Linked DNA regions of Homo sapiens. The protein of the gene in region 5 purifies or fractionates together with the protein of the main gene of each other region. This does not show direct contact. Each region holds a gene or a part of one and is shown on either strand. Other genes may lie near its edges.

The links.
Region 1: the proteins of RETREG2 (region 5) and GOLGA3 purify together in Homo sapiens (affinity purification with mass spectrometry; one large-scale study listed by BioGRID and IntAct). This does not show direct contact.
Region 2: the proteins of RETREG2 (region 5) and HPSE purify together in Homo sapiens (affinity purification with mass spectrometry; one large-scale study listed by BioGRID and IntAct). This does not show direct contact.
Region 3: the proteins of RETREG2 (region 5) and SLC25A19 purify together in Homo sapiens (affinity purification with mass spectrometry; one large-scale study listed by BioGRID and IntAct). This does not show direct contact.
Region 4: the proteins of RETREG2 (region 5) and CCR9 purify together in Homo sapiens (co-immunoprecipitation; one large-scale study listed by IntAct). This does not show direct contact.
Region 6: the proteins of RETREG2 (region 5) and ABCD3 purify together in Homo sapiens (affinity purification with mass spectrometry; one large-scale study listed by BioGRID and IntAct). This does not show direct contact.
Region 7: the proteins of RETREG2 (region 5) and CHD1L purify together in Homo sapiens (affinity purification with mass spectrometry; one large-scale study listed by BioGRID and IntAct). This does not show direct contact.

The regions. Positions count from the first base shown.
Region 1 is NC_000012.12:132,804,701-132,808,716, forward strand, and holds part of GOLGA3 (golgin subfamily A member 3), read right to left. Parts: intron 3,850-4,016; coding exon 3,191-3,849; intron 2,589-3,190; coding exon 2,477-2,588; intron 323-2,476; coding exon 16-322; intron 1-15. UniProt on the Homo sapiens protein: Golgi auto-antigen; probably involved in maintaining Golgi structure.
Region 2 is NC_000004.12:83,303,772-83,307,787, reverse strand, and holds part of HPSE (heparanase isoform 1 preproprotein), read left to right. Parts: intron 1-1,470; coding exon 1,471-1,585; intron 1,586-4,016. UniProt on the Homo sapiens protein: Endoglycosidase that cleaves heparan sulfate proteoglycans (HSPGs) into heparan sulfate side chains and core proteoglycans. Participates in extracellular matrix (ECM) degradation and remodeling.
Region 3 is NC_000017.11:75,286,227-75,290,938, reverse strand, and holds the start of SLC25A19 (mitochondrial thiamine pyrophosphate carrier), read left to right. Parts: upstream 1-1,505; 5' UTR 1,506-1,585; exon of another isoform or gene 1,586-1,850; intron 1,851-2,347; 5' UTR 2,348-2,437; exon of another isoform or gene 2,438-4,024; intron 4,025-4,136; 5' UTR 4,137-4,174; coding exon 4,175-4,306; intron 4,307-4,479; coding exon 4,480-4,635; intron 4,636-4,712. UniProt on the Homo sapiens protein: Mitochondrial transporter mediating uptake of thiamine diphosphate into mitochondria. It is not clear if the antiporter activity is affected by the membrane potential or by the proton electrochemical gradient.
Region 4 is NC_000003.12:45,889,088-45,893,103, forward strand, and holds part of CCR9 (C-C chemokine receptor type 9), read left to right. Parts: intron 1-4,016.
Region 5 is NC_000002.12:219,176,675-219,181,180, forward strand, and holds the start of RETREG2 (reticulophagy regulator 2), read left to right. Parts: upstream 1-1,600; 5' UTR 1,601-1,678; coding exon 1,679-1,959; intron 1,960-2,034; exon of another isoform or gene 2,035-2,247; coding exon 2,248-2,354; intron 2,355-3,058; coding exon 3,059-3,089; intron 3,090-3,435; coding exon 3,436-3,571; intron 3,572-3,995; coding exon 3,996-4,080; intron 4,081-4,387; coding exon 4,388-4,506. Other genes in the region: protein CNPPD1, read right to left, coding at 86-154. UniProt on the Homo sapiens protein: Endoplasmic reticulum (ER)-anchored autophagy regulator which exists in an inactive state under basal conditions but is activated following cellular stress.
Region 6 is NC_000001.11:94,515,528-94,519,431, forward strand, and holds the end of ABCD3 (ATP-binding cassette sub-family D member 3), read left to right. Parts: intron 1-1,524; coding exon 1,525-1,602; 3' UTR 1,603-3,136; downstream 3,137-3,904. UniProt on the Homo sapiens protein: Broad substrate specificity ATP-dependent transporter of the ATP-binding cassette (ABC) family that catalyzes the transport of long-chain fatty acids (LCFA)-CoA, dicarboxylic acids-CoA, long-branched-chain fatty acids-CoA and bile acids from the cytosol to the peroxisome lumen for beta-oxydation.
Region 7 is NC_000001.11:147,249,003-147,253,018, forward strand, and holds part of CHD1L (chromodomain-helicase-DNA-binding protein 1-like), read left to right. Parts: intron 1-3,620; coding exon 3,621-3,733; intron 3,734-4,016. UniProt on the Homo sapiens protein: ATP-dependent chromatin remodeler that mediates chromatin-remodeling following DNA damage.

The DNA.
Region 1 (4,016 bases), on a different chromosome or scaffold from region 5:
CAGGGCCAGCCTCACCTGTGTTGTCCTTGCTGAGCATGCTCCTCTGCATGTCCTCTACCTTGGCCATAAGCCTCTGGTACTGCTCCTCGGCCACCTGCAAGTCGTTGTTGGACGACGCCAGGCTGGCATTTTTTGCCTCCAGCATGTTCTGCAGGTCAGTCATGGCTCGCTCCAGGTCCCAGCACGACTGCTTCAGGGTGTCCACCTCCGAGCTCAGCGAATCCTGCCGCTGCTGGCTGCTGTGGCTGCACTCCACCTGCGCCTGCAGCTTCGTGCTGAGGGCGGCCAGCTGGGCCTGCAGCTCAGCCTTCTCTTTAAGTGCCTGAAAAGATCCCAACAACCACAATGATTTTAAGAAAACGAGTCACTTCCATCCAGTGTATTAACAGGAACACAACCAGCGAGTCAGTCAGGGCCTGACAGGGGACCCCGAGACCCCCAGGCGCTCTCCCAAGGCCTGACAGAGGACCCCAAGACCCCCAGGCGCTCTCCCAAGGCCTGACAGGGGACCCCAAGACCCCCAGGCGCTCTCCCAAGGCCTGACAGGGGACCCCAAGACCCCCAGGCGCTCTCCCAAGGCCTGACAGAGGACCCTGCCCCGAGACCCCCAGGCGCTCTCCCAAGGCCTGACAGGGGACCCCGAGACCCCCAGGCGCTCTCCCAAGGCCTGACAGGGGACCCCGAGACCCCCAGGCGCTCTCCCAAGGCCTGACAGGGGACCCCGAGACCCCCAGGCGCTCTCCCAAGGCCTGACAGGGGACCCCGAGACCCCCAGGCGCTCTCCCAAGGCCTGACAGGGGACCCCGAGACCCCCAGGCGCTCTCCCAAGGCCTGACAGGGGACCCCGAGACCCCCAGGCGCTCTCCCAAGGCCTGACAGGGGACCCCGAGACCCCCAGGCGCTCTCCCAAGGCCTGACAGAGGACCCCGAGACCCCCAGGCGCTCTCCCAGCACAGCCGTCACAGAAAAAGGCGACTTTCCAAACAGGCCCAGGACGCACAGGGAGCCTGCACTGGTTTTGGGCCCAACTGCACCTGCACAGGGCAGCGCTAGGGCAGGGCTGGGGAAGCACCCGTCTCCTGCGAGGACACTGGAAACGTGTTCAAAACACCAAACGTGTACACGGGTGCACATGTATGCGCACACACACAGAATGCCAGACGTGTAGAGGGACCCCTGAGAGATTAAAAGCGGATTCAGATCTGGGGGGAAATGGGCAAAAAACACAGGCAGGGAAAGGCGGCTGCCTAAGTGCGGCTCCAGCCAGAGCCACGGGACACAGCACAGTCCTGAGTGGCCACCGCAGTGCTGTGTGGTCCCAGGAGCAGCAGAGAATCGCCAGAGGAAATCGCCCCACCACCTGCCCCCACGCTGAGGCCTACAGGGGCAGGGATCCAGTTCACACATCACCAAGACAACAAACACCCAAAGCAATTGAGGAACTCCACAAACTCCAGGAGACCCTAGAGCAAGGGGCCAGCAACCACCACACCTGAAACAACCCTCACGATCTTGGTGTGGATGCAACCGAAGGACCAATCAGTGATCCTAAGAGGATAAGAAGACAAAGTGCAGTGACAGCAAGCCACCGTTCGAGAGAGTGGCTACACAGAGGAGGGGAAATGCATCCGACGGAGGGAGGCTCACGCTGTAACACTGGAGAAGTGACGACCGTACAACCAGAATTAGCCTCAAAACAGCCGAAATCACCTCTTCTGTAGACACAGCTTTAGGTGTCACAAACTGGTTGGTTTGTGTCCAAGGACCATGTTGTATGAGAAAACCATCTTCGACATGAGGCGTGCATTTAGCAAGGCAAGCTCCGGACACTGTGAGCAGCTCCAGCCCTGCTCTGCGGCCTCGCAGGCCACAGGAGGCTCCCTCAGCTGTGTCACCTCAGGGCCTGGGTGCATTCTCACCCTCCCACGCCAGAAGCGGACAGCTGAACCCCACTGAACAGATTTACTCAACTGCCGACAGAAGATAAATACCTAGCTCTTCACTGTGGATAAAGTGCATACGACAAAATGACAAAGGAGAGCTGAAATAAGGGATGGAAAATGATGTTTCTGGCACATGCTAACCAAGCCAGCGTGTGCAGCTTTCTCTGATACAGCACAATTAGTATCAGAAAAAGCAGAAATCACTACAAAGAAAAAAGGTTCACCATGCCAGAAAAAGCTGCAACCCACCAAGAGAATTTGACTCTTATGGACTGTGAGACACCTAACATCTAGCAAATATTCTGGTAGAGACGCAGGGAGAAACACGCCCATGCACGATGAGGCAGAAAACTCACAACTCTTTCTAAGGCTGACAAGTAGACAAAAAACGTAAAGATGCAGAACCCTCGGCTGCCACACATGCTGCGGCGGCTGATTCCCAACCACATCTGTGAAACCTCGTACCCAACAGAGGAGCCACACATGCTTTCCGACTTCGCCGCACGCTGAGATGTCAGTCGAACGTCCGTTACCTGACTCGCCTCCAGTGACAAGGCTTCCAGCTGTCCTTCGAGTCGCATTTTCTCTTTGAGCACCTGCAGCATCTCCTCCTGTGTTTCTGCTGCAGAGCTCTCCAAGGACACGCTGGGGACAAAGGCACGGGTCAGGCCTGTGCGAGCCATCCTCATTTTCTTTCACACTCCTCCACATTCTCCAAATTCCACACACCCCTGCTGCTCTCTCCCAATTTTTTAAAATTAAGTAAGAGATTTAAGTAGAGAGCTGAGGCTTGCATGATGCACGGATGAACATTCCTGCCAACAGTTGGCACCTCACGCAGTGGGAACTGTTACAGAAACATGAGACATGCAAGCGTCGTGCAGCTTAGTGACAAGTCTATGTAAACGGGAGACTGGATATTTTAGTAACACAGACCATTGCTGATCTAATTCTACTGATTAAAAAGCAGCAGACTTGTTATGAATTAAATGTTCATGTCAAGACTAAGGATAGAATCAGGAAGAAAAGCTGTGTATCACCTGTTCCAGTGCGGAGAGCCGTGGGCCCGGGAAGCAACATCTCAGGCCAGGCCCTCTGCCTGCCCTGCCCGTCTCTGCCCACCCCGCCCCCTCTGTTGGCCCCACCCACCTCTGCTACCGCCCCACCCACCTCTGCCCGCCCCACACCCCCCTCTGTTGGCCCCACCCACCTCCACCCACCCCGCCCACCTCTGCTGTCCCCACCACCTGCTGCAGATGCTGTCTCTCCGACTCCGCACCTCCCCGTTGACCTCCTGCCCCTGGTCTTGGTGCTCAGCGGCTGCGGCCTGGAGGACGTCCTTAATGGAGGGGAACTGGCCCAGGGTATCCGCAGGAATCTCCTGGCCGTTGACCATATAGGGGGTGTCCTGCGTGCCCACTGTCTTCGACAGAATGCCATAGGTCCCTCGGGTGGAGGCGCTGCTGTACGATGAGCTGTCGCTGTCATTTCCATCCACCTCAGACACGCTGTCTCCAGCCAGGGAGGTGTTCTCCAGACGGTCGTCAGTGTCGGGGGACAGGCTGATCTCAGACACAACGGACGCCGCACTGCTTCTGTTCTGCTTCAGGGAACCCTTGGTAGAATCGGGAGCCGGGACATTTCCCCCAGAATTCCCCGCATTTGAATCTTCAGTTCTGTAATCGGCCAGAGACCGGATTTTGCTTGATTTGGAAGTTTTTTTCTCCCTAGGATGTGCCGGAAGCCCCAGGCTGCCCACCTTAGGCCCCCGAGGGACACTGGTGCGCAGGAAGGAATATTCTTTTGTCATAGCCAGGGTACTGGCCCTTGGTAAGTTTTCTGGGTTTAACATGAGCTCAGGATCAAGCGTGCTAAAAAGTCTCGTTTTGGTTGCAGGTTGACTGGACTGAGAAGAAAACAAAAGTACAAAAATTACATTTAAAATCCACAAGCAGCATACTTAAAACTGCCATTCAGAAAGGTGGCACCGATCACTACTCCCTCCGCTGACAACCAGAGAGCACCACCTCCCCAGCCCCTCACCACACAGGGTGCGGCCAGGCCTCCGATCCG
Region 2 (4,016 bases), on a different chromosome or scaffold from region 5:
TAAGCCTAGAATACATCACAAATCCTTTATGCCCATGGAAGCAAGAGGAATAAAGAATGGAGATGTTTGTTTTGCCATTAACTAAAGATCTGGGGTGTCGGGGAGAAGGGGGATAGAGAAGGAGAAGTGGGAAGAGGTGTCCATAATAGCTTAGGTGCAATTCTGCTTATTTTACATTTTACCCCCGCTGACTGCCACTTTTTCTTCAGCCCTCACACATTGTTTGTGCAGGGACCTCATAGGACCAGGAATTGTCTATAGAGGTGGGAATTTGTCTCACCCTGAAAGGGATACCTCTAGCATGGTAATAGTCTTCTAGGATTTGTTATCATATGGAAAGATGTAAAGGGAGGGATTCTGCTGCTGCTGCTGCTGCTGCATGCAGTTGCCATTTCATTTAAATGACTTATTTATAATTGATGACACTTTTCTGGCTTCCTGTTAATTCCTCCCTCAAAGATCAATAAACCAGAACCAGGCATGGTGGCATGCACTTGTGGTCCTGTAACCACCCAACAGGTTCACCTTGCCTGCTGTCTAGATAGAGCCAATTATCAAGACAGGGGAATTGCAAAGGAGAAAGAGTAATTTATGCAGAGCCAGCTGTGCAGGAGACCAGAGTTTTATTATTACTCAAATCAGTCTCCCCGAACATTCGAGGATCAGAGCTTTTAAGGATAATTTGGCCGGTAGGGGCTTAGGAAGTGGAGAGTGCTGGTTGGTCAGGTTGGAGATGGAATCACAGGGAGTGGAAGTGAGGTTTTCTTGCTGTCTTCTGTTCCTGGATGGGATGGCAGAACTGGTTGGGCCAGATTACCGGTCTGGGTGGTCTCAAATGATCCACCCAGTTCAGGGTCTGCAAGATATCTCAAGCACTGATCTTAGGTTTTACAACAGTGATGTTATCCCCAGGAACAATTTGGGGAGGTTCAGACTCTTGGAGCCAGAGGCTGCATTATCCCTAAACCGTAATCTCTAATGTTGTAGCTAATTTGTTAGTCCTGCAAAGGTAGACTTGTCCCCAGGCAAGAAGGGGGTCTTTTCAGAAAAGGGCTATTATCATTTTTGTTTCAGAGTCAAACCATGAACTGAATTTCTTCCCAAAGTTAGTTCAGCCTACACCCAGGAATGAAGAAGGACAGCTTAAAGGTTAGAAGCAAGATGGAGTCAATGAGGTCTGATCTCTTTCACTGTCATAATTTCCTCAGTTATAATTTTTGCAAAGGCGGTTTCAGTCCCAGCTACTTGGGAGGCTGAGACAGGAGGATTAATGGAGCCCAGGAGTTTGAGGTTGCAGAGAGCTATGATCACGCCACTGCACTCCAGCCTGGGTGACAGAGTGAGACCCTGTCTCTAAATAAATAAATAAGTAAATAAATAAATACATAAATAAAATCAAGATGGTGTGCAATTAGAATTGAGCGATTTTGTTTCCAAACCTCAAGAAAGCTTGGTCTTGCTCTGTCCCAGGTGGCTGGATAAATTGGGCCTGTCAGCCCGAATGGGAATAGAAGTGGTGATGAGGCAAGTATTCTTTGGAGCAGGAAACTACCATTTAGTGGATGAAAACTTCGATCCTTTACCTGTAAGTGACCATTATTTTCCTAATTCTAGTGGAGTAGATTAAAGTCAACTCAGGACCTCTGGTGTTAACCTCCTATGAACAGTCAGTCCTCTCAGTAACTAGCCAAATCATGAGATGATGAATTAGAAGGAGCCTTAGATAGCATCCAATCTAACATTTTTTTGTGTGTTTGAAGAGAAGAAATCAAGAGCTAGGAATAACTTTTTAAAGGTAAGCCATTTGCAGTATAGTGTGGATTTTGTTTAAAAGGGGATAATTTGAAATTTTATGACTCATTATACAAGACAAAATAAGTTGGATTTTCAAATGTTTTACAAAGTAAATCAAAGTTATAATTGCCTACAGTACGCAAAGCTTCAAAACATTTTTTATGTTATGAAATTGTAATTTATTTAACCTTAAAATGAGCCAGTACCATGTGTTTGCTTAAAAATCTCATGCTAAGAATTTACTATGTTGTTAATAATCTTCAAGATATTTATGAATAAAGTCTTATTTCTAATCCTTCCTCCAACTGTATCTGGTGCTAAATCAGGAAATGTTTCTTCCCAAAAAGCCTCGTGGAAGATCTGTATGTCTAAATATATGTCAGGGATAATACAGATGTAGCCCTGAGAAGCATGACCTTGATTTTTATAGTCTAAAATGTCATTTGCAGATATATATTTTCTAAGAATAATTCCTAAAAGAATTATTTGAATGTTGTAGGAAAGCTAAGAAATTTTGCAAAGAGCGTACGTGAAAATATAAGCTAGGCTTTTGTGGTTTGTGGATAGACTTCCCAACAAAATTGCTTTTTATCTATAGTGATCCAAGCTTGTGGAACATATTAGTCATCTTTTTTTAGAAAATTCTTAGAAAAGTGATCTTGCAAAAATGGAATTTATCTTTCCCCAAGTATATTCTGTCATGTATAGAGTTAAACTAAGCATAGTAATTTCACCAGACAAACATTCAAAATCTACTCCTGACCTTTTTATCTCATCCAAATTTTCCCAGGGCCCAGACATAAACCTTTGCCTTACGAACTCTTTGTATATGCACTAAATATGCTTCTCCTTCAAGGTTCTCAGTCAGCTAGAAAAATGTGCAAGAGTAAATGGTACCCTTCTCACTTGTAGATCCAAGAGAATTAGACTTAAACTCACTCTACATGTCTGTGACTTTATTTTATTTGCATGACAGTCCTGTGAGGTGGCAAGGCAGGTATCTTGGATCCATTTTTTAGATAAGGAAGTTCAAATTGAGAAGAGGTTGCATGATTTACAGGAAGCCATACTGTAGTCCTATGTTACTCTTAAAAATCCCATTCAAATCCTGCTTCTGAGGCCTGCATACTTTCTACCCTACCAGTCATTGACCCATGCTTATGTCTCCTTTGAAAACATTGATTCCACTCTTGTCTCCAGTGAAAAAGTGGAATTTAAGCAGAGAAACAAAAGCCATTTGTCTTGTTAAGTCTACTTTCCCTCTACTTTCAAGAAGGAAAGTTGGGGTATGTGTTGAATGGTGATTTATTTATTTATTTATTATTTTAAAAATTGATACAAGGTCTTACTGTATTGTGCAGGCTGGTCTCAAACTCCTGGGCTCAAGTGATCATCCCACCTCAGCCTCCCAGTGTTGGGATTACAGCATGAACCATTGTGCCCACCACCGATCCGCAGTTTTTTAAGAAAAACTTTTACTATAGAAAATTTTAATCATATACAAAATACAGAGGAAAGTATATGAACCCACTTTAGGAGACTAGAATATGCCACCCCAAAATATGCCACTTTGGCATAAGGATTATTTCGAGCTAAAGGCAACTGGGAAGAAACACATAGAAGAAAAGTTCTCTGTCCTTCTCCATTTGCCTAAAAGCAGGACATGAATCTTAAAAGTCCCCCTCCTTCCCTTTCTACCAGGAAAAACAAGAGTTAATCACTGAAGATAACTTCAGACCCTTATCAGTGTAGAGATGGCACTAGAAGAATCTATATTACATACTCATTTATTTTCCTTCCCACAACTTGCCACCCCAGAGACTAAAAATCCTTTTCCTTTGTCATGTCTCTTGTCCAAAAATTTGCTCTATAAGCTGGAGTTCTAAGCCACCTCTTTGAGAATTACTTGTTCCCTGGTATTTTCTGTTAACATACATGTATTAATATACATGTTAACAAGCTTCTGTTTGTTTTCTCCTGTTTTCTGTCTTGTTACAGAGGTCCATCCCAACTAAGAACTAAAGAGTAGGAGGAAAATATAATTTCCTCCTGCATACTTTGATCTTGTTTAATCCGTAATCCTTCCCACTTTTCACCTCCTACCTATTAGATTACTTTGAAGCAAATTTCAGATATATTACTTTATCTATAAATATTTCAGTATGTGCTAGGTGTGGTGGCTCACACCTGTAATCCCAACACTTTGGGAAGCTGAGGCAGGA
Region 3 (4,712 bases), on a different chromosome or scaffold from region 5:
CTGGCCAACATGGTGAAACCCCGTTTCTACTAAAACTACAAAAATTAGCTGGGTATGGTGGTGCAGGCCTGTAGTCCCAGCTACTCAGGAGGCTGAAGCAGGAGAATCACCTGAACCCGGGAGGTGGAGGTTGCACCGAGCCGAGATCGTGCCACTGCATTCCAGCCTGGGTGACAGAGTGAGACTCTTGTCTCAAAAAAAAAAAAAAAGTTTGAGACCAGACTGACCAACATGGCAAAACCCCATCTCTACTAAAGATACAAAAAATTAGCTGGGCATAGTGGTGCACGCGTGTAATCCCAGCTACTCGGGAGGCTGAGGCAGGAGAATCGTGTGAACCCCAGAGGCAAAGGTTGCAGTGAGCTGAAATAGCACCATTGCACTCCAGCCTGGGCGACAAGAGCAAAACTGTCTCAAAAAAAAAAAAAAAAAAAAAAAAAAAAAAAAAAAAAAAAAAAGAAGAACATTTCTTTCTTTCAGAAAAGTGTAAACACTAATTCATATTTGATATTAAAAGTTTTTTTGGGGGGTCGGAGTGACAGTTTTGTGTGTGTGTGAAGCATAATGTATACGTATTAAAAAGGGAATGCTTGTCCTTTAAAGACACATACTGAAATATTTACTGGTGAAAACACGTGATGGTATTTACTTCAGAATAACGCTGGGCAGCGCGTGCGAGGTAGGTGCAGAAATAGAGGAAACAAGATTGCCCCATGAGTCGCGTAACTGCTGAGGTCGGAGAGCGACTCTACGCGGCTTCATCGGGTTATTCCACTTCTGTGTATCTTGAAATTTTCTACAATAAAAATGTCTTAAAATTGTGCGTCAAAATGATAACACGAATATAAAAATGCAATTAAAAAGTCAGGAGGCAATACTGTCGCGCAAAACCGTGACGCTAGTTGTGTGCGGGCGGTAGGATGAGTCATTTCCTCCTTCCTTTCTATATTTTCTGTCTATATACTTTTAATATTACTTTTATAATGAGAAATACTAAAACTCGGGGTGAGAGGGGGGGACACTCGTGTTTTTGCCTTCCCCGTCCCCGAGGGGACTGTTCTCATCTATTCTCTTCCCGACGTCCTCCAGCTTTTTGCTAGGCTTCCTGCCATCTTTACCAAGTTGAGATTATCCGGGTTCTGGCATTAACAGAGTTTGAGGAAAGCGGGTCAAGTCTACCGCGCCCTAACCTTGGACCCCGCCTGCAGGCTGACTTTCGAGTCACACGCCAGAGCACGGCGACCCCTAAGGTCGCAGCCCGGCTTCGCAAGGCACCTCCTTCTAACGCGTCGGTCGAACTCGCGCGCCCGCGAGCAGCCGGACTACATCTCCCAGGAAGCTGTGCGCCGTCCAGCTGTCCTGCCCTTGGTCGCGAAGGACTACATTACCCGGTGATATCTTGCGGGAGGCGGTTGCCAGACCTCAAGCGCACAACCATTGGTCCAGCGTCTGGCGGGGAGCTGCACGGTGATTGGCCCAGGAGCCCGCCAGTTTCGTCCGAGCTCAGTAGAGTTTTGCTGTTAAGACTGCGCGAGGAGCTAGAGAGAGCGGAGAGCGCTGAGCCGGGCCGCACCCGCCGAGCCGTGTGAGTAACCTCTACCTCCGTCCTTCTCGCCGCCCTCTCGGGGACCAGCACCCTCGCTCCTCAGGGTGGTCGGGAGGGAGCACACGCACCCGGGCGCTCACGAGAGGGCGGGGACTGTGTACACACGTGTCACACCAGACCAGAGAAGCATCTCCAGGGACACCGGCGGCCGAGCCCCGCGCACGCCCTTGAGCACCTGAGCTCCAGGGCGTCCCCTCGGACTCAAGGAGAAAAAACACACCCCGAGGCACACGTGGACACCTAGGTACCCACACGGGGACCTCTGCAGATTTGCTCAGCTGAGCCCTTGGGCACATGGGCACCCGAACACCAGGAAGAGCCTGGTATGCTCCGGTCTCCTGACAGCGATCCAGGACACCTGCCACTCGGGCTTGCTCCTCCTTTCTGCCCAGATGGGCGGGAAACACGCTGCTCAGTGTGACCTGAGCGGTCCCTGGGTAACCCCTGGAGAGGTTTTGCCTCTCAGTCGCTTGCCGCGTGTTTAAACTTCCTCATGGGCGCCTGGGGAGGAGTTCCAGGGTGGGTGAGAGGAGAAAAGGAATTGATGTCTGGGGTGGAGGCTGCCATCCTGTAGGTAGTATCTCCCCTCCTCCCCCACCCCCACCCCCACTACTACAAGTATTCAAGAACTAGGGTAATTCTGAAGGCTAGTTTTAGGGATTTTTTTTTTTTTTTTTTGCCATAACAAATTCAAACAGTATAGAATTATCGACAGGTCTACCTTCCTTTTTCCCTTCTCAGCCCTTCTCCCTGTGATCAGTTACCAACTACCTGTTGATGTGTGTGGTTACAGACTTCTTTCTATGCTTTGTACAACTCTACAGACCGTATGTAGGTATTACTGTTTTTGTTTTTTGTTTTTACAAAAAAGGAAAAAAGTACATCTCCTGGAAGGGATGCTTTTTAGCTGAGCTCTGGTGGATGAGAGGAGCTAGCCTTGAAAAAGTGAGTAGGGGCTGAGAGTGGGGCTGTATTTCAGACGTAGGGAACTGGAGGAGTAGAGGCAAGGCAATTGATAGGAGTGCTCCCCGAGTTTTCCAGGAACTGGGCAGAAGCAGTCAGACCACTCTGGTTAAATGAGGGAAGGGGAAGAGTGGTCCAGAGTGAGGCTGAAGAGGTCAGTAGGTCTGAGTCAGGGGAGCCCAGGAGCGTCATTTTCTTTTTTGTTTTGTTTTGTTTTTTTGTTTTTGAGACGGAGTCTCACTCTGTAGCCCAGGCTGGAGTGCAATGGCGTGATTTCAGCTCACTGCAACCTCTGCCTCCCAGGCTCACGTGATTCTCCCTCCTCAGCCTCCCAAGTAACTGGGATTACAGGCGCCCACCACGACACCCAGATAATTTTTGTATTTTTATTAGAGACAGGGTTTCACCATGTTGGCCAGACTGGTCTTGAACTCCTGACCTCAGGCGATCCACCCGCCTCGGCCTCCCAAAGTGCTGGGATTACAGGCGTGAGCCACGGTGCCTGGCCAGGAGCATCATTTGCTAGCGTAGCATGGCCCCACTGTGCCGGGGTGGTCTGAGGTGTGTGCAGGAGGGGAAAGGGAAAGGTGAAGGGGCTCAGGGCCTCAGGGCTCTTCCTTTGGACAGTGGGGGATTGTTAAAGAATCCCAATCCCTGTTCTCCAGCCCTGCACGTCCTTCAGTCCCTCAGCGTTACACTTGAGTGGGCTCACTCAGTGAGCAGGAGTTTGCTATAAAGTTGCCAGATGTCTTGGAAAACCAGTTGATCTCTGGGACCAACAATTGCCTATCAAGCCTGTTCATTCGATTCTCAAATATTATTAAGCACTTACCATGATGGGCTCTATTCCAGGAACCGGAAATTTACGAGTGAACAAATGAGACCAAGGTCGTGTTTCCACGGGCTTACATTCTAGTCAGGGAGAGAGACAAGAAACAAATGTACTGTATAAATAACCCATGGCGTGCCGGGCGCTGTGGCTCATGCATGTAATCTCAGCAATTCAGGAGGCTGAGGCAGGAGAATCACTTGAGGCCAGGAGTTCGAGACCAGCCAGGGCAACATTGAGACCTTATCTCTACAAAAATAAAAAACTTAGCCAGGCCTGCACCTGTTAAGTGACAGCTAATTGGGAGGCTGAGGCAAGAGAATCACTTGAGCCCAGGAGTTCAAGGCTATGGTGAGTTATGATGGCACCACTGCATTCCAGCCTGGGCAACAGAGTGAGACCCTGTCTCTAAAAAAGTAAACAAATATGCCATAGTAATAAGTACTGTAAAGAGGAATAAAACAAGTGCTATTTTATTTTATTTTTAAATTTTTGTATTTTTTGTAGAGTTGGGGTTTTGCAGTGTTGCCCAGGCTGGTCTTGAACTCCTGAGCTCAAGCAATCCACCCACCTCGGCCTCCGAAAGTGCTGGGATACAGGCATGAACCGCTGCGCCCAGTCCAAAAGTGAGTGCTATTTTAGACAGTCTAGTCAGGGAGGGCTGCTCTGAGGAGGTGATATTTGAGCAGAGACCATAAGAAACTTGCCTGGTGTTTATTCCGTATCTCTTGCATTTAGCTTGATACTGATGGACATTGTGTGGGCCAGAGGCAGGGATGGTTGGCTATGACCCCAAACCAGATGGCAGGAATAACACCAAGTTCCAGGTGGCAGTGGCTGGGTCTGTGTCTGGACTTGTTACTCGGGCGCTGATCAGTCCCTTCGACGTCATCAAGATCCGTTTCCAGGTACTCTTCCCCTTTTTCCATGCAATGGACTGGAGGACAAGTTCAGTCTTTCTTGCAAAAGCAGTTCCTAAAACTTGGAATTCTATCCAGATGAAGGGCTTGCCTTTTCTGAAAGTTCCCCTTCACATTCCAGCCCACCCCACTGTCCTGACCTTTTTTATTTTGATTCCTAGCTTCAGCATGAGCGCCTGTCTCGCAGTGACCCCAGCGCAAAGTACCATGGCATCCTCCAGGCCTCTAGGCAGATTCTGCAGGAGGAGGGTCCGACAGCTTTCTGGAAAGGACACGTCCCAGCTCAGATTCTCTCCATAGGCTATGGAGCTGTCCAAGTAGGTGGCAAGGGACCTGGCCAGACCTCTGGGGTCACGTTGCTCAGTGGAGGAGCAGAGGGAGGGTGAGGCAAGCA
Region 4 (4,016 bases), on a different chromosome or scaffold from region 5:
CGATTGTCCTGCGTCAGCCAGCTGAGTAGCTGGGACTACAGGGTAGGCAACCATGCCTGGCATATTTTTAAATTTTTTGTAGAGATGGGGTCTTGCTCTGTTGCCCAGGCTGATCTCAAATTCCTGGCCTCAAGTGATGCTCCCACCTCAGCCTCCCAAAGTGTTGGAATTACAGGCATGAGCCATCTTGCCTGGCTTGTGTTTATATATTACCTTTAAAAAAAAAAATAAAGAGAAACCTTTATAGAAAGCTAGTGTACAACTTAGTTGCATAAAGTAGCCTCGGTGAATGTAATTACTAGACTTGCTCTTTCTGCGGTAGCTGGAGCAGGCTACAAGTTCCTCCTCTAGATGAGTTTTGTAAACAGGTGTGCTGAACGTTAGAGCATTGGGCTTCTTCTTCTTTTTTTTTTAAATCTGACAAGTTATTTTTATGACAGCTCTTAAAATAAAATTTTACACACTTGGTAAGATATTTAAATAGTTTGCAAAATCTAAATGAAAACATGAAAGTTCATTTTCCACTGGTCACAGTGGTTCAGTCTCCTTCCAGAAAATGTTTCGGTGCTGGTGAGCAGTGCAGTGTATGTCTTTTTCTATTTTTTTTTTTTTAAAGATCACACAACATAAGTCTTCCTACATGTTGCATTTTAATCTTATAGTCTTGAGGACCTCTTTTCTATCAGCATGAGGACCATCCTTGTTTATTGGCTACACATGGTTTATTGGATTGATGTGTCATAATATTACCAATTGCTGAATATTTAAGTTGTTTTCCAATTTTTGTTCTGCTCCAACATATATCCCTATACCTGGACCCTTGTGTTCTTTTGTGAGAATACCAGTAGGGCAAATTCCAAGCAGATGCGCTGCAGAGTCAGAGATGTTGTGCTTTGTAAATTTTGACAGATATGGCTTAACCCTCCAAAAAGATCACATAAATTTATACTCCTCACAGCAGTGTGGAGGCCTTTTTTCCAAACTCTTACCAATGTCGTTACCATCTATTGCTATTTCCAATCTGAAACTTGCTGTCACTCACTATAACAAAGCCATTCTTTCTTCTTTTTGTGGTTTCTTTCTTTGGGAATTTTTCTCAGGTATTACATGATTAATATTCAGTCCTTTCATGCAAGCAAAAAGGAGGTGACATAAGCCCTGGGTATTAGAAATATATATATAACATATATATATATTTATATAAATATATATATAACATATATATATATTTATATAAATATATATATAACATATATATATAACATATATATATATATAACATATATAAAGTGTTTTCTAATTGATATCTCAAAAATCAACCTCCGTATTCCCCAAGCTGTAATAAAATAAAATTTGCTGAGTTGAGGTCTTCCAAACTCAACTGGGCATTTTTCATCTGGGGCAAAAAAAAGAAGAGTAATGCTCAGCTCCAAAGTGGCTGCTTTTCTGCTTGCTGGGTGAGTTTCTTATTTCAAAACAGAGGCTCACTGGGCTTCTTGATGGCACCTGGAGTCATGCCAAGCAGGAAGCAATCACTCCACAGAGCTGAAGATGTCAGAACCGTTCAGAAATACTGCCTGGGGAAAGTTCTTGGTTCTTCGGCTTAGGAGGAAAGGGGCAGAATACAACCTTTCTGAAGAAAATGCATCTTTCATTCACCTGAGAAATATTTCAAAATAACTATAAAAAGAAGTTAGAAGCAGGTGAATTGCCCCACAGAGGGGAATGTTTAAATGAATTGGGGCACAGCCCCTGTCGGAATGCCAGGTAGCTGATGCCTTCACCTGTCTGAAGAATGTTTAATGATGAAAGAAATGTTCATAATCCGTTAGGTGGGAAAAAGAAAATAAAAGTTCAAAGTGTACGAATGCATAGAAACACGGCTGGGAGGGAAAACAACAGAAAGTTAAAAGTGGTTATTTTAGGGTAGGAAGATTACGGGTGATTTTGATTTTCTCCTCTCGGCTTTTCTGTATTTGTCAAATTTCCTGCAAACACGTGTGTTACTTTTGTAACAAAAAAAGTCATTTTTCAGATAAATGTCAGTGTTTTCCTGGCCCCCAGAGGGCTGCAGTGAAATTCGGTGAATGCCCAGGTGGCTGGGTAAGGTCACGGCCGGAGGCTGGGGCTACTCATTTTTATTTCAGACACAGTCCTGTTCCAGGCTTTCTTGTGTCTTAGGGTCAATTGCCAAAATATTTTTTTCTCTTCTAAAAATTTATTGTGAGTCTTACTTGTATCTAATTTCAAGCTCACTGAAAAGTGAAAAATTGTGTAAAGAATGCTTATAAACCCTTCACCCAAACCATTGTTTTCATTTTGTCCTACTGGCTTTATTATTCTCCTTCTCTCTATATACATATGTTTTCATTAATTTTTTGCATTTTTTGCTTATTTTTTGAATCCTTTGAGAATATGCCAAAGACACTGTTCTCTTTTGCCCCTAAATACTTCAGGGGATAATTCCTAAGAACAGGGGCATTCTCCTGTAAAACCACAATGCAGTCAGCAAAATCAGGAAATTTAATCCGGATGCAGCACTATCATCGAATTCACAGCACCTATTGTAATGCCCTTAATTTCCCAGTAATGTCCTTCACAATTATTTTTTTTCCCCACTCCAGGACCAAATCCAGGTTCTTGCCTTGCATCTACTTGTCCTGTCTCTTTAGTCTCCTTCAACCTGAGATGGTTTCTCAGTTTTTCTTTGTCTCACTTGACCTTGATATTTGGCCAATTACTTTGCAGAAAGTCCTTCATTTTGCGTTTTTCTGATGCTTCCTCATTCTTTGATTTAGGTTGACCTTTTTTCCAGGAATAAAGATGATGTGTCTTCCCTCCTCAACTCTTTAGGACAAATGTGACACTGGTTTGCTTCCATGTTGGTGGTATGGGGTTTGAAGACCAACTTAGCTGGTCTTCAAATCCAACACCATCAACATGTAGTTACATGTCTCCAAGGAGCCCTGGCTGTTTAGTGGAGAAAGATATTTAGATTCCAAGATCAGGGCACTAGGTGCTAATTATGCTGTGTATCATTGCTTTTAGGTCCTCTCAGCAGACAGAGACAGGAAATATGTATGTGAAACACACATACATATACATATACAAATTGTCTATCTATCTATCTAATTTAATCTTAAAAACATATGGGTATAAAGACATGTGAACATGTATGTTCATTCCAACACTATTCACAATAGCAAAAACATGGAATCAACCTAAATGTTCATCAACGATAGACTGGATAAGGAAAATGTGGTACATATACATCATGGAATACTACACAGCCATAAAAAAGAACAAGATCCTGTCCTTTGAAGCAACATGGATGGAACTGGAGGCCATTATCCTAAGTGAATTAACACAGAACAGAAAAACAAATGTCACATGTTCTCATTTATAAATGGGAGCTAAATGTTGAGTACATATGGACACAAAAAAGGGAATAACAGACACTGGGACCCCCTTGAGGATGGAGGGAGGTAGGAGGGTGAGGATAAAAAAACTATCTACCAGTCAGGTACTATGCTTATTAACCTGGGTGGCGAAATAATCTATACACCAAGCCCCCATGACGCGCAATTTACCTATATGACAAACCTGCACATATACCCCTGAAGCTAAAATAAAAGGAAAAAACCCACAAAAACAAACCAAAACAAAAAAAACCCACGTGGGTCCGTAGTGATCTCTCAAGTTGGCTACAACAGCACAAGGCACTCCAGTGCACTTTTGAAAAGCTACCAGCAGAGAGGTTACCAGGAGGAAGTTCTGGTTGCTTTCCTCCTCAGGGCCTGCTGACAGCCGGAGATGACACTGAGAAGTGAAGTGCCAGAAGGTTTTCATCGTACTTTGCTTTTTCCTGCCTTACTTGAACAGCTTTATTGAGGTCCAATTATAATAAACTGCAAATATTAAAATGCAGAATGTAAGTTCTGACGTACATACACCCTTGCGAAGCTCTCACACAACCCAGACAGTGAACATATTTATCCCCCACTGAGGTTTCCTTT
Region 5 (4,506 bases):
CACAGCAGTCAGGCGAGCTCGCAGCGCCGCTCAGGCCGGGAGGGGCGCGCCGGGAGGCCGGGGAGGGGGCGGGACCCCCACTCACCGTGAAGTCCTGGAAGCCGGCGAGGGAGAAGGTGCCTTCTTCGTCCAGCAGGAGCCCGGTCAGGTCCATCGCGCCGCCAGTCGCCGCCCTGCGAAGGTGAACGGAAGGAAACGAGTTGTAGGGGGCTCGCGGAGCTGTCCTTGCCCGCCTGTCCACCTGCCAGCCTGCCTCCCCGGGGCGGGCCGCCGTCCTCGCCCTCGCCCTCGCAGCTCCCTCCCCCCGGCGGCGGAAGGCGGGGCCCGGGCTGAACTGGGCGCCTCTTCCTGTTCCGCCCCGGGCTTGGCGCGGCGCGCGGGGGCCCTAGGCCCGGGAAGGGAGGTGTCAAGCGTCCGTGCGACGCTCACCTCGCGGAGCAGAAAGGAGATGCGGCTGCGAGGCGCGTACTCCGCCTGTGCCGCGTCCGCCCGGCGTTTACAAGCCGCGGGGGTGCCGCCTGCAAGTCAGCGCCTGGCACTTCCTGCCGCCCATCTGGCCCAGCCTCCCGCCCCGACCCGCGGGCAGGAACCGGACTCGAACTCCTGGTCTCACGGAACGTGGCCAAGCCCCAGGCGCCTCTGAGAAATGGGGACAATTCGTAGGGGGGACCACGCCGCACTGAGGATGAACAAGCCAGGCGTAGCAATGGAGAAGTTAATGTGAATAAGACGAAACGCACAACAGGAAGTTGTTCCCAGTTGCTTTTTAGGAGAGATATTATACATACTCAGCAATGCATATGAAAAGCGTCTGAAAGGACACACAGGAAATTTAGCAGTGGGTGAACTATGAAAAGGAAGAGAAACTCAGGGTGTTTTTTTTTTTTACTGTAATTTGAACTTTTAAACCTAAGGCTACTGAGGAAATTCTGTGATCTTAAGCGAATGTAAGGCCTCAAAACGTGTCAACACGTCCACCCAAAAGTAAACTGCATCTACCCAAGGTTTTGTGTTGAAACCCACCTCCCGCCTCCGATCTCATGCTTGAGTAGGCCGAGGTGGGAAGAAGCTCCGATATGTGGAAGTGGGAAAGTTTAAGGAGATAGGAAAGAAACAACTTTTCTGAGTAGATGTTGTTTTCGAGTCTGTCGAGTCAAGCGCTGGTGTGTGTTTGTTTACCCACTGAGGGGAGGGAACTGGGAGGACCAGTGCGTTGAGGGTTGGTTGAGTAATGGGACGGCCACCGCCCTTCCCGAGCGAGCAGAAGCAGACCCTACCGGGGATACTGGGAATCTGGAAGCCCACTTCCTGCCCCACACGGGGATACCGGGGCAGCACCACACTCCCTAGCCGCCCTGCCTACTGTGGGATAAGAAAACGGGCTCGACTGCCTGGACCTAGACCCGGACTCGGAACCCGGGGTACTTCGTCAACCAGAAAACGAACCTGTGTAGGCGCAGTGTCAGCGGCAGCCGCCGGGGCGCATGCGCGGCCCGCCCTATCCGGGGGGGGGGGGGTTAGGCCGCGTCACGTGACGGGCTCAGCGCTCCGCAGTCACGTGACGCTCGTCCGCAACCTCTGCTGTCCTCCGCGGCGCCCCCTTCCGCCTGACGCGCCCCCGGCGGCGGCCGCGCAGCCCTGGCTCCTCGCGGGCTCGGGCGGCGGCTGCGGCGGGGCTATGGCGAGCGGCGGTGGCGGGGGTAACACTGGCGCGGGTGGGGGGCCGGGGATGGGCCTGAGCCTGGGCCTGGGTCTGGGTCTGAGCCTAGGCATGAGTGAGGCCACCAGTGAGGCAGAGGAGGAGGCGGCCACGGCCGAGGCGGTGGGACGCCTGGCCACGACGCTGTGGCTGCGGCTCCGCGGCTGGGAGGCGGTGCTGGCGGCGGCGCAGCGGTTGCTGGTGTGGGAGAAGCCGCTGCACAGCCTGGTCACGGCGGCCGCGCTCAACGGCCTCTTCTGGTAACGGCCGCGGAGGAGGGGGCGGGGCCGGGATGAGCGGGGGAGGGAGGGGTCGAGAGCACCATTCCCCTTTCTGGGTTATCACTTGGCCTGGGGGCATGACCCATCCCCAGTTTTTGCAGGCTGACATCCGCTTGAATTGCCCATTTTTTTCTATCTCTGAGTCGTGAGTCGCGAGTTAGGCCTGGAGGTGCCATTACCCCATCAGTAGGCGCCTTTCCACCTTCTGAGATGGATGCATGAGCCTGTCTCACCCACTCACTGCTGAGGTGCCTGTCTCTCCCTAAGGTTGCTGTCTTCCTCGTCCCTCCGGCCCTTCTTCCTACTCAGCGTCTCACTTTTGGCCTATTTTCTGCTGGATCTCTGGCAGCCTCGCTTTCTCCCTGACGTTTCAGGTGAGTGTTTCTTCATTCAGTAAGCACCCATTGGGTACTTGCTTGGTGCCTGATTCCGCTGGGTGGGGTTAAGTGGCGAGGGGAACGTACAGCAGGCCACCTGCCTCCCAGGCATGGCCCACTTCCTTTTTGTACGGAATTCCCTAAAATGAGAATTGCCCCTTTCCCAAACTAATACTACTGTAGGTGCAGTGGTTAAGATGGTGAAGTCTGCAGCCATATTACCTGGGTTCCATTCTCTGTTCTGCCATTTACCATTGCTGTGACCTTGTAAAAGTAGCTCAATTTCTGTTTGTCTCAATTTCCTTATCTGTAAAACACAGATGATAGAACTTACTTCATAGAGAGGTGAGGAGAGGATTAATGAGTTAATACACATGCTATACTTATGATAGTGTTTCACATATAAGCCTTATAAATAGAACGTCAGTGTTGTTTTTCTTGTTATCCATATAATTTACTTAGTAGGTGACAGGCTGTATGTGAGTTGCTTGGGAGATAAGCATGAGTAAAATCTAGTTCTTATGTTGGAGAAGGGTAATGTCTAAAGGAGACAGACGCAAACAAAAACATGTAACAGCTCCCCCATTGGCATCTGAAGAAGGTGCTCTGGGGCTGCAGAGGAGGGACAACTATTTCTGCCTTGGGGAGTGTCTCCCAGGGCCCCTACCACTCAATAATTTGCCCCCCTCCTCTCTCTCTAGCATCATCCCCAGAGGAGCCACACTCTGACAGGTGAGTACAGGCCACCTCTTGAAGACAAATGCCCACATCCTGTCCTGCTTGCTGGTGCCAGTGTCACCATGGAGCAGGGCAGTGCCCCAGCATTGTGAATGAACTGGTAACAAGCCATGGGTTTTTCATGGTCCTAGGCTCCTGTGTAGGTGTTTGCGTGCCTGCTCCTTTTGGGGCAGAGGGTTGGGTCCTCCTGGCTTTGCTTCTAAGACCAGGACAGCCTCCTTTTGAGAGGTGGGGTCATTTGCTTTTTTAGACTAAAGATATCTTTGGCATTCTCAGAGGGATTTAAGTGTCTAGGAAGCTGGTATCTGAGGCCTCCAGGGGTCATGTCATGTCTCCCCAGTGAGGGTGCGGGGTCAGGCGCCCGGCCGCACCTGCTGAGTGTGCCCGAGTTGTGCAGATACCTGGCTGAGAGCTGGCTCACCTTCCAGATTCACCTGCAGGAGCTGCTGCAGTACAAGAGGCAGAATCCAGCTCAGGTAACCTCCCCTACATCATACAACAGTTCACTACACTGAAGGGGAATAGAGGTGGCGGGGGATGGGAGTGGAGTGATATAAACTCCCCGCTTGGAGACCCTGAAAGAAGAGGCCTGGGCGCCTTCTTGAGGCAACATTCACAGCTAATCCCTGGTGCAGGAGGCAGTCTCACCTCAGGAAATAAGCTTTTGATAGCCTGACACTTTCTCCTGCCAAGGCAGACCAGTGTGAATTACAGGTGGTGGGCATTATGTATTGCCAGCTTCCTGAATTGGTGGTCTTGAGCATCCTCTTAACCAAACTGGACCACCCCATTCCTTGAGTACATACCCATCCTTCTACCAGCTGAGCAGTAGTTTCTTACCCAGCCGAGCGGGGCGCATATCTCAGCGTGATGTTCTTAGACTTTTGCTCTTCTCTGCAGTTCTGCGTTCGAGTCTGCTCTGGCTGTGCTGTGTTGGCTGTGTTGGGACACTATGTTCCAGGGATTATGATTTCCTACATTGTCTGTGAGTAGGGTCTGTCCCTGCCCTATTTAAAGCCCTCTCCTTTCTTCTTTCCTTGGACTGACCCAGAGGGAAGACTATGCTCTCTCTGCTCAGTTTCTGATTTGTGGAGATCTCCAGGGATGCTTTAGTATTAGTAACTGTGGAAGACTTACCTGGGGAGGAGGGCAGTGGATGTGGCAAGAAGAGGTTGGCACAGCCTTGGGAAAGGACCTTGCCTACCTTCAGCACTTCAGTTTAGGGACCAGTTGAATGGGGGCTCTTAGGAAATTGGCGTAGGGAGCTCTTAGTTCACGTTCTTAACCCATAGTGTTGAGTATCCTGCTGTGGCCCCTGGTGGTTTATCATGAGCTGATCCAGAGGATGTACACTCGCCTGGAGCCCCTGCTCATGCAGCTGGACTACAGCATGAAGGCAGAAGCCAATGCC
Region 6 (3,904 bases), on a different chromosome or scaffold from region 5:
AAGAATTAGATGGCAAAAAATTTAGGGACATTTTTAATAGAGGTCAGGACTACAAGGGGGAAGATTGAATAACATAAGCTATGTTTATCAATGTACTGTAGTAAGTAGGATTCATTAGATAGTCACTATAATTTACAAAGATATTCAAATGAGGCTTACATTGGTGCACGTGTATTACTTATTCTGGTGCTTCAGTAGTGCCATTCTCACTATGTCAGTTCTTTTCAACTCAATGTGAAATGCTCAAAACCTGAAAGTAAACCCAGTTTAATTCTCTTTATTTTCTTTCCTCCTCCCTCCCTCCCTCCCTTCCTTTCTTCCTTCCTTTCTTTTCTTCTTTCCTTTCTGTCTTTCCCCCTTCCCTCTTTCCTTTCTTCTCTTCTTTCCTTCTTTTCCTTCCTAAATGATATAGAAATTTTAGGTAAAAGCAAGGATTTGAGAAAAATTGGAATAATGGTAAAGGTGCCTTGTTCCACAAAATACATACCTGATTAAGGACCTTTTTTTGCCAGATACTGAGCTAAGTGTCATGAGGGATGCAAATTAATTACAGTTTTTACCTTCAAGAACTTTAGGATGTAGATGATAGTCTACAAGTGATAAAATGAAGAGCATAGGATTTGAAGTCAGAGAGCCTGGGTTCAGGCACCAAAGTTTCTAGCCTCAGTTGCTTCCTTTGTATAATGAAGTTATTGAGCCTTACCTTCCTATCTCTTAGATTACCATGAAAATTAGACAGGTAGCCTATATGAAAGTACTTAATAAAATTCAGTGAAATTCTATATAACTGTGTGACTTTTAAAGATAGCTTTTATTATTTTATGGCATATTATAACTTGTCAATTTTTCATGAACTGAGCAGGAAATTGAATAACTAGAAATCAAAGGCATTTAAAATATAGCCAAGCCTTTATGTTTTCTCGGAAGTTCATAAGTATTATAGCCATAGGACATTGAGAGGAATTGAGAGCATTTGGGTTTCACCCTTCCTCTTCTTTTGGAGGTATAGACAAGTAGCAAAATAATCATCACGCCAGTGATCATGTGAAGGAGGGGAACACAACTAGAATGTGAGGGGCCAGGATAGCTAAGAAATAGTAATACAGAAAATGGAAACTCAGAAAGCTTTCTGAAAATAAGCCACTAAATAAAAACAGAAGGCTTTGTAACTGCTGTTGTGTCTTCAGAGGTTAGGATATATCGGCAGTTTTTATAGCTCTTTTTCCCCTCTACTAAATTAAAAACAAATAAAAAGCCTTAAGCTGGAGATTTCAAGCTGATTAGGAAATCAGGCTACAGGAAACAATACTGACTGACCTATGGAACAGTCTTGCATTTAGCACAGTTTAACCTACTGGTAGCTGAGATCCTTGGTCATGGAGTTACGGAAGCATTCTGATTTGTGGGATGCTTATAGATTTAGCTCCCTTAAAATAATGAGGAAGTCTGTATTTTACTTTTCATAAAAGACAGTACTATATTCACTCTTAGTTACTGACTTTTTTTCCCCCTTCTTTCCCATAGTACTACCTGCATATGGATGGCAGAGGCAACTATGAATTCAAACAGATAACAGAAGATACAGTTGAGTTTGGCTCTTAGAGAAATCTGGAGAACTATACCTGCTTCAGTGAAATAATTACAGAATATACTTAGAAAGGCAAAGTACATTGTAAAATAAAGTTGAGCTTAGTTTTTTTTAAAAAAAAAAACAAAGCAACAAATTAACTAGATACAGAATAATGGAGAACAAGTTGTTAAAACATTTAATATTATATAGGATATTGCTAATTGTGTATATGTTGGTTTAATTAATAATATGTACTAAGAATGTCCTTATTCTTGTGGTTAAAAACCTGCCTAAATTAAATTGGGCTTCAATCACTGTAACCTGATTCATCCTGGGATGTAAACCATTCGAAGTCAGCTAATTGGACTTTTATGGCTCTATCTTTTCCTTCAGTGAAGAACCCTATTTAAAACTGGGTCATCATTTGTCCTGTTCTAGCAAGATAGTCTTCAGTTTCATTTTCCTGTGCCCTGTGGTAGTTGGAAACAAATCATAATGTATTATTTAAATGTTTAACATCATTGCATAACAGCGTTTATTATACAGTGGCAGATTTCTTTAGCTGCCACAGTAATACTCATTCCTTGTGTGTGTCTTGGAGTGCATTTGACTCCAGGAAAAGCCATTTTGGTTTTCCTTAACTAAATGATAAATGTACCCCTCTCAGTCTGCAGTATTGAGTTGTTTAAAGTATATGTGCAGTCTTGCTTACAAGGAGGGGTTACCATGTATCACACCTAATCTTCCCAATGTTTGGGATATTAAAACACAAAGTCCTTAACATGCCAGGCTCAAGGTCTTATAAGAGTTCTAGATTTTTAAGAGAATTAGACAAATTTGTGTGTGTTAGAAGCCCATTCATTAGAAGTGTGGTGGTTATTTGGTATTAAACTCCAAATGAGCCATAGGAAGGCACTACATGAAATAATGCACTGAGTATGCAATGCTATCACTGTCTTTGACTGTGATTTTATGTTTAAAAAGTATGTTCTAAAATTATTATATATACATGGGTGAATTATGTTTCCGAGGCACTGTTTTATCTCTGTGAATCTTGAATAACTTTTTTATATTTGGGTTATGATGTCAAACGATCCTAAGCGAAGATGATTTCAGTTCATCAAATCATCATTAATGACTTTATGTATTATTTGCACAGGGAGAATTGAAACTGAGTATAATCAATAAGCTAGATACGAAATCAGTTTCTCAAACTGAGCTTCAGAAAGGGGCATTTTGTACTCTTGTTTTTGCATAACTGGTTTTGTTTTTTTGCAGAATTAACTATAACAATCACTGGCTACCGAAGTAAACTGATGTACTGAATTCCATAATACATAACATTCAATTTTTACCACTTCTGTTTAGCGAACTTGTATACTTATTTTCTGTTCAGATTAAAAAAAAAAAAAAAAAACTCAGATATCCTATACAACCTTTGCTTGTTCTTTTTATTCTGGTATCTAAATACTGAGAAGTTCATTTATAATTCAGCCTTGACTTGAAAACATAGATAGTTTAATCTTGACTTGAAAAACACAAAAATAAATTCAGAAAATGCTTTTAGCACAGTGTCTCTTTTTTAAAGTTTTGCCAAGTGTGGTTTTTAATTGAATGAATTTCTCTTTTAGAAAAGTTCAGTAAAATCTGTGTACCTGACAAATGCTACCAAACAGCCAGGAGACCTTAAAAGATACTATTCGTCTTGGAAAAGATTTTAAGGCATGGGAAAGTTTCAGATTTTCAGATTTCTGGGTTACCTTAAACCTACTCGTAGAAGTATTCTCCTAGCTGCCTTATAATTGCTTTTGTTATGATTCTTGCCATCAAAACAACAACAACAACAATTTGGGCTTTTTTTCTTAATTATTTTCTTTTTTATGTAACAAATATTACAGTGCCTCACCATTTGAGGCACAGAGGAAGATCCTTCTGGAGAATCACATTAACATAATAGTGGTTCTTCGAAGACCCACAGTAAAGAAATCCATTGGTTCAAAAACATGATTGACCACGGAACATCTTTTTCTACATAATTCCTATTAACACCTTCCAGAAACTGCAGTGGGAAATGGTAGTTTAATCCGAAGAATAAACCAAAGAATAAGAACTTTCATCCATGAGCACCACGCTGCATGCCAAGACATATCACCGTGTTCTCATAATAAGTTTTTACTTTTTATATAATGAGAAAATAAGTATGAAACAGCAATGGTAGTTTGTTTTGCATTAATAGAATAAAATATATCTAGCATTTGTCTCTTTCTCCCCTTTCTGAATGATTAACATTTGGCTTAAAACCGGTGATATGATAGCATCTGGCATTACTTTATG
Region 7 (4,016 bases), on a different chromosome or scaffold from region 5:
ATTTACACGTTTTTGAATGCTGCATTCTCACCTTGATGTTCCAAGGTTCCATCTTTTATCATTTCCTTTTTTTCCAAGGGCTTCCTTTAGCCATTCTTTGAGGGTAGGTTTGTTGATGATAAATTCTCTTTGTTTTCCTTCATCTGAGAATTTCCTCTTCATTCCTGAATACCATTTTTCTTGATTACAGGAGTCTGGATTGACAGTTCTTTTCTTTCGATATTTGAAACATGTTGTGGCATTTCTTTCTGGCCTTTAAGATTTCTGACAAGAAATCTGCTTGCATTTGAATAGTTTTTCCTCTTTAAGTAAGGTGTTGTTTGTTTTTTTTCTGGCTGCATTTAAGATATTTTCTTTGTCTTTTGTTTTCAGCATTTTAATAATTACATATCTTGGTGTGTATTTTTTTTTTTTTTTTTTTTGAGATAGAGTCTCTCTCTGTTGCCAGGCTGGAGCGCAGTGGCGCTATCTCAGCTCACTGCAACCTCCGCCTCCTGGGTTCAAGCAATTTTCGTGCCTCAGCCTCCCGAGTAGCTGGGACTACAGGCACCCGCCACCACGCCCAGCTAATTTTTGTATTTTTAGTAGAGATGGGGTTTCACCATGTTGGCCAGGATGGTCTCAATCTCTTGACCTCGTGATCCGCCTGCCTCGGCCTCCCAAAGTGCTGGGATTACAGGCGTGAGCCACCGCGCCCGGCAATGTTTTGTTATGTTTGCGGTTTACTCAGTTTCTTGAAACTGTAGCTCTTTAGCCAGATTTGGGAAGTTTTCAGCTATTATTTATTTAAGTACTTTTTCAGCCCTATCCTCCTTCACCTGTTTTTATTGGACAACATTGAACAAATGTTAGATCTTTTGTGGTAGTCCTGAAGGTCCCGGAGGGTCATTTGTTTTCAGTCTGCTTTCTCTCTCTTCTGATTGTAATCTCTCTATAACTTCTATTCTGTAGAGTTCACTGATTCTTTCCTCACTTCCTTCCATTCTGCTGTTGATCCCATCAACAGCATCAGTAGCCTTTTATTTTGGTTATATTATTTTTCAGTTTTTAAAATTTCCCTTTGGTCTTTATATCTTTTATTTCTTTGCTGAAATTTCTGTTTCTTACCTGAGGTTTCCTGTTTTTTTCAGTTGTTCAAGTGCATTCATAACTACTTGTTGAAGCATTTTATCATTACTGCTTTAAGGTCTTTGTCAGATAATTCTACCGTCTGTGTCATCTGGGTGTTGGCACCTATTGATTATCTTTTTTCGTTCAGTTTGAAATCTTCCCAGTTCTTGATATAATGAATGATTTTTATAAGAATTGGAGCCAGGCATTTTTTTTAAATCATGTTTAAACCTCCTGTTTGACTGTCTTTGTCTGATGCTGCTCTGGCAGGGGAAGAGGGTCTGCTGCCTTGTTAGTGCCAGGTGGGGATAGAAGTCCAGGCTCCCCCTTCAGCCTCTGTCCACATCTGGGGATTGGGAAGGGGCTCCTCCATCCTGCTGGGTGAGGGTGGGAGTTGTGGCTCCCTCCTGAGTCTCTACTGATCCTGCAGGGGAAAGCTAAGGGGTAGGGCCTCGTTATTGGTTGGTGGGGATAAAAATCCCAGCTCCCTACTTGGCCTTCTCTTATACCATCCTGGCTGGGGTGCTGGGGCACTCGTTGTAGCTGTAGGTAGAAGTCTATGCTTTCCACTTAGCCTTTGCTGGTGGGACCACAGGTTTATTCCTGTGGTGTTTACTAGAATAGAGCAGTTATTATATAAAAGTTTCCTGTCTTGCTAGGCTGCCATTTTCTAGCTGGAGCAGGCTTGTGAGGGGTGGGGGTGGTATGGTTTGGCTGTGTCCCCAACCACATCTCACCCTGAATTGTAATAATCTCCACGTGTCAAGGGTGGTGCCAGGTGGAGATAATTGAATCATGGGGTCAGTTCCCCCATATTATTCTCATGGTAGTGAATAAATCTCACAAGATCTGATGGTTTTATAAATGGGAGTTCCCTGCACAAGCTCTCTTGCCTGCTGCCATGTAAGATGTGACTTTGCCCCTCATTTGCCTTCCACCATGATTGTGAGGCCTCTCCATCCATGTGGAATTGTGAGTCAATTAAACCTCTTTCCTTTATAAATTACCCAATCTCAGGTATTATTAGCAGCATGAGAAGAGACTAATATTGGGAGGTGTTCTTATTTGTTTTGGTTTTGGTCTACATCAGTTGGTGTTTCCAGTTGGCTGATTTCTTGAACTGTCAGACTGGGATATATAAAGCAAAAATAAATTCCAGGGAACTTACTACCCTGCCTTCCGCAGGCCCAAGGTCCCTAGCCAGTCTGCTTCTTCACTACACCTTTCAGAGTTTTATGCTTGTTTTCTGTAGCATGTCTAGGGTTTTTATTTGTACTTAGCAAGAGGAATAAGGGAAAGTAAGTATACTCCCATCAGAAACAGAAATCTCTGAATTTTCTGATTATAAAATGGGGATAATACCTACTCCATAGAATCATTATAAGCATTAAATGAGATACTGTAATTTATTTATTTATTTTTATTATTATTTTTTTGAGACAGTCTCGCTCTGTTGCCAAGGCTGTAGTGCAGTGGCGCGATCTCGGCTTACTACAACCTCCGCCTCCCGGGTTCAAGCAATTCCCCCTGCCTCAGCCTCCCAAGTAGCTAGGATTACAGGTGCCCGCCACTACACCCAGCTAATTTTTGTATTATTTATTAGAGACAGGTTTTCACCATGTTGGCCAGGCTGGTCTTGATCTTCTGACCTCAGGTGATCTGCCTGCCTCAGCCTCCCAAAGTGCTGGGATTACAGGCGTGAGATACTGTAATTTATGTAAAGTGTTTACTACTACTCTGGTATTTGTAAGTGCCTAAGAAAAATAACTTATTTTTTAAATTTTGTACAATTATGTATTTTGAAGATTTTTTTAAAGGTATAAGTTAAACCAGATAGTTATGTTTTTGCTAATAGTTCTTATATAAAGTATGTTTAAGGTCTTTCACCTTCCCAAGATATGGCTATTCTTTGAAATTGGATTTTTTTCACCAAGGGAAAGAGAAAAGAGAGTAAGTTCCGTATTAATTTCACACGTTTTCTGCCATCCCTGTACACAGTTAAATACCCTTTGTGAAACATCATTTCCATTCTTAAAAACAGCGCTTCTGTGTTGAAGCATTATTCAGTGTAGTCCTAAGTTTTTTCCTTTAGCATTGATGGCATATTTAAATGGGTGCAATTAAACAAGCAGACACATGTACAATCCATGTGTTGTTGCTCTTTGTTAAGTTGCATCAGTAATGCCTCATTTCCCAGAATGGACACTGGTGTGAGTCTCAGGCAGTATAGAGGCCAGATCCCAAGTTGACTTTCTCATTTATCAAGTGAATCAGGTAACAATGACAGGCTACTTTGGGGCTTTGAATATAAAGGTGAATAAGTCTGCTCAAAAAGTAGTTTGGAAGTCAGCAGATGTTTAGATATCCATAACTCCTCAGCAAAAGATACGTCCAGTGAGGTTTAGGGTTATGTGAATTTAGGCTGTGTTCCTCATTCAAACTCTTAGAACATTGCCTCTGCATGTACTGAAATGTCTGCTCTTCGGATTTGCTGTATTTTTTGTTTCTAGGGATTCACCTACGCTCTTACCAGCTGGAGGGAGTAAACTGGCTCGCCCAGCGCTTCCATTGTCAGAATGGCTGTATCCTGGGAGATGAGATGGGCCTGGGGAAGACCTGCCAGGTGTGTTACTATGCGACGAGTACTGCTCACCGCCACTGCGATACTTCCTTATAACTCATTCTGGAGCTGAGAGCTCTGGAGCTAAAACAAAGCTCAGTTTCACAAATGTCCCTGGGATCCAGGCTAACTGGCTCTTGCACCGGGAAAGGGCCTTCCCTGTACAGTCTTCTCTGCCTCAGTCATTGCAGTTCCCCTACTGACTTTATTCAGGGCCAGCAAATGCTACTTGTCCTTTCTTTGGATGTTCACATAGCTCTGCTTTAAGCTCTCTAAAAAGATATCA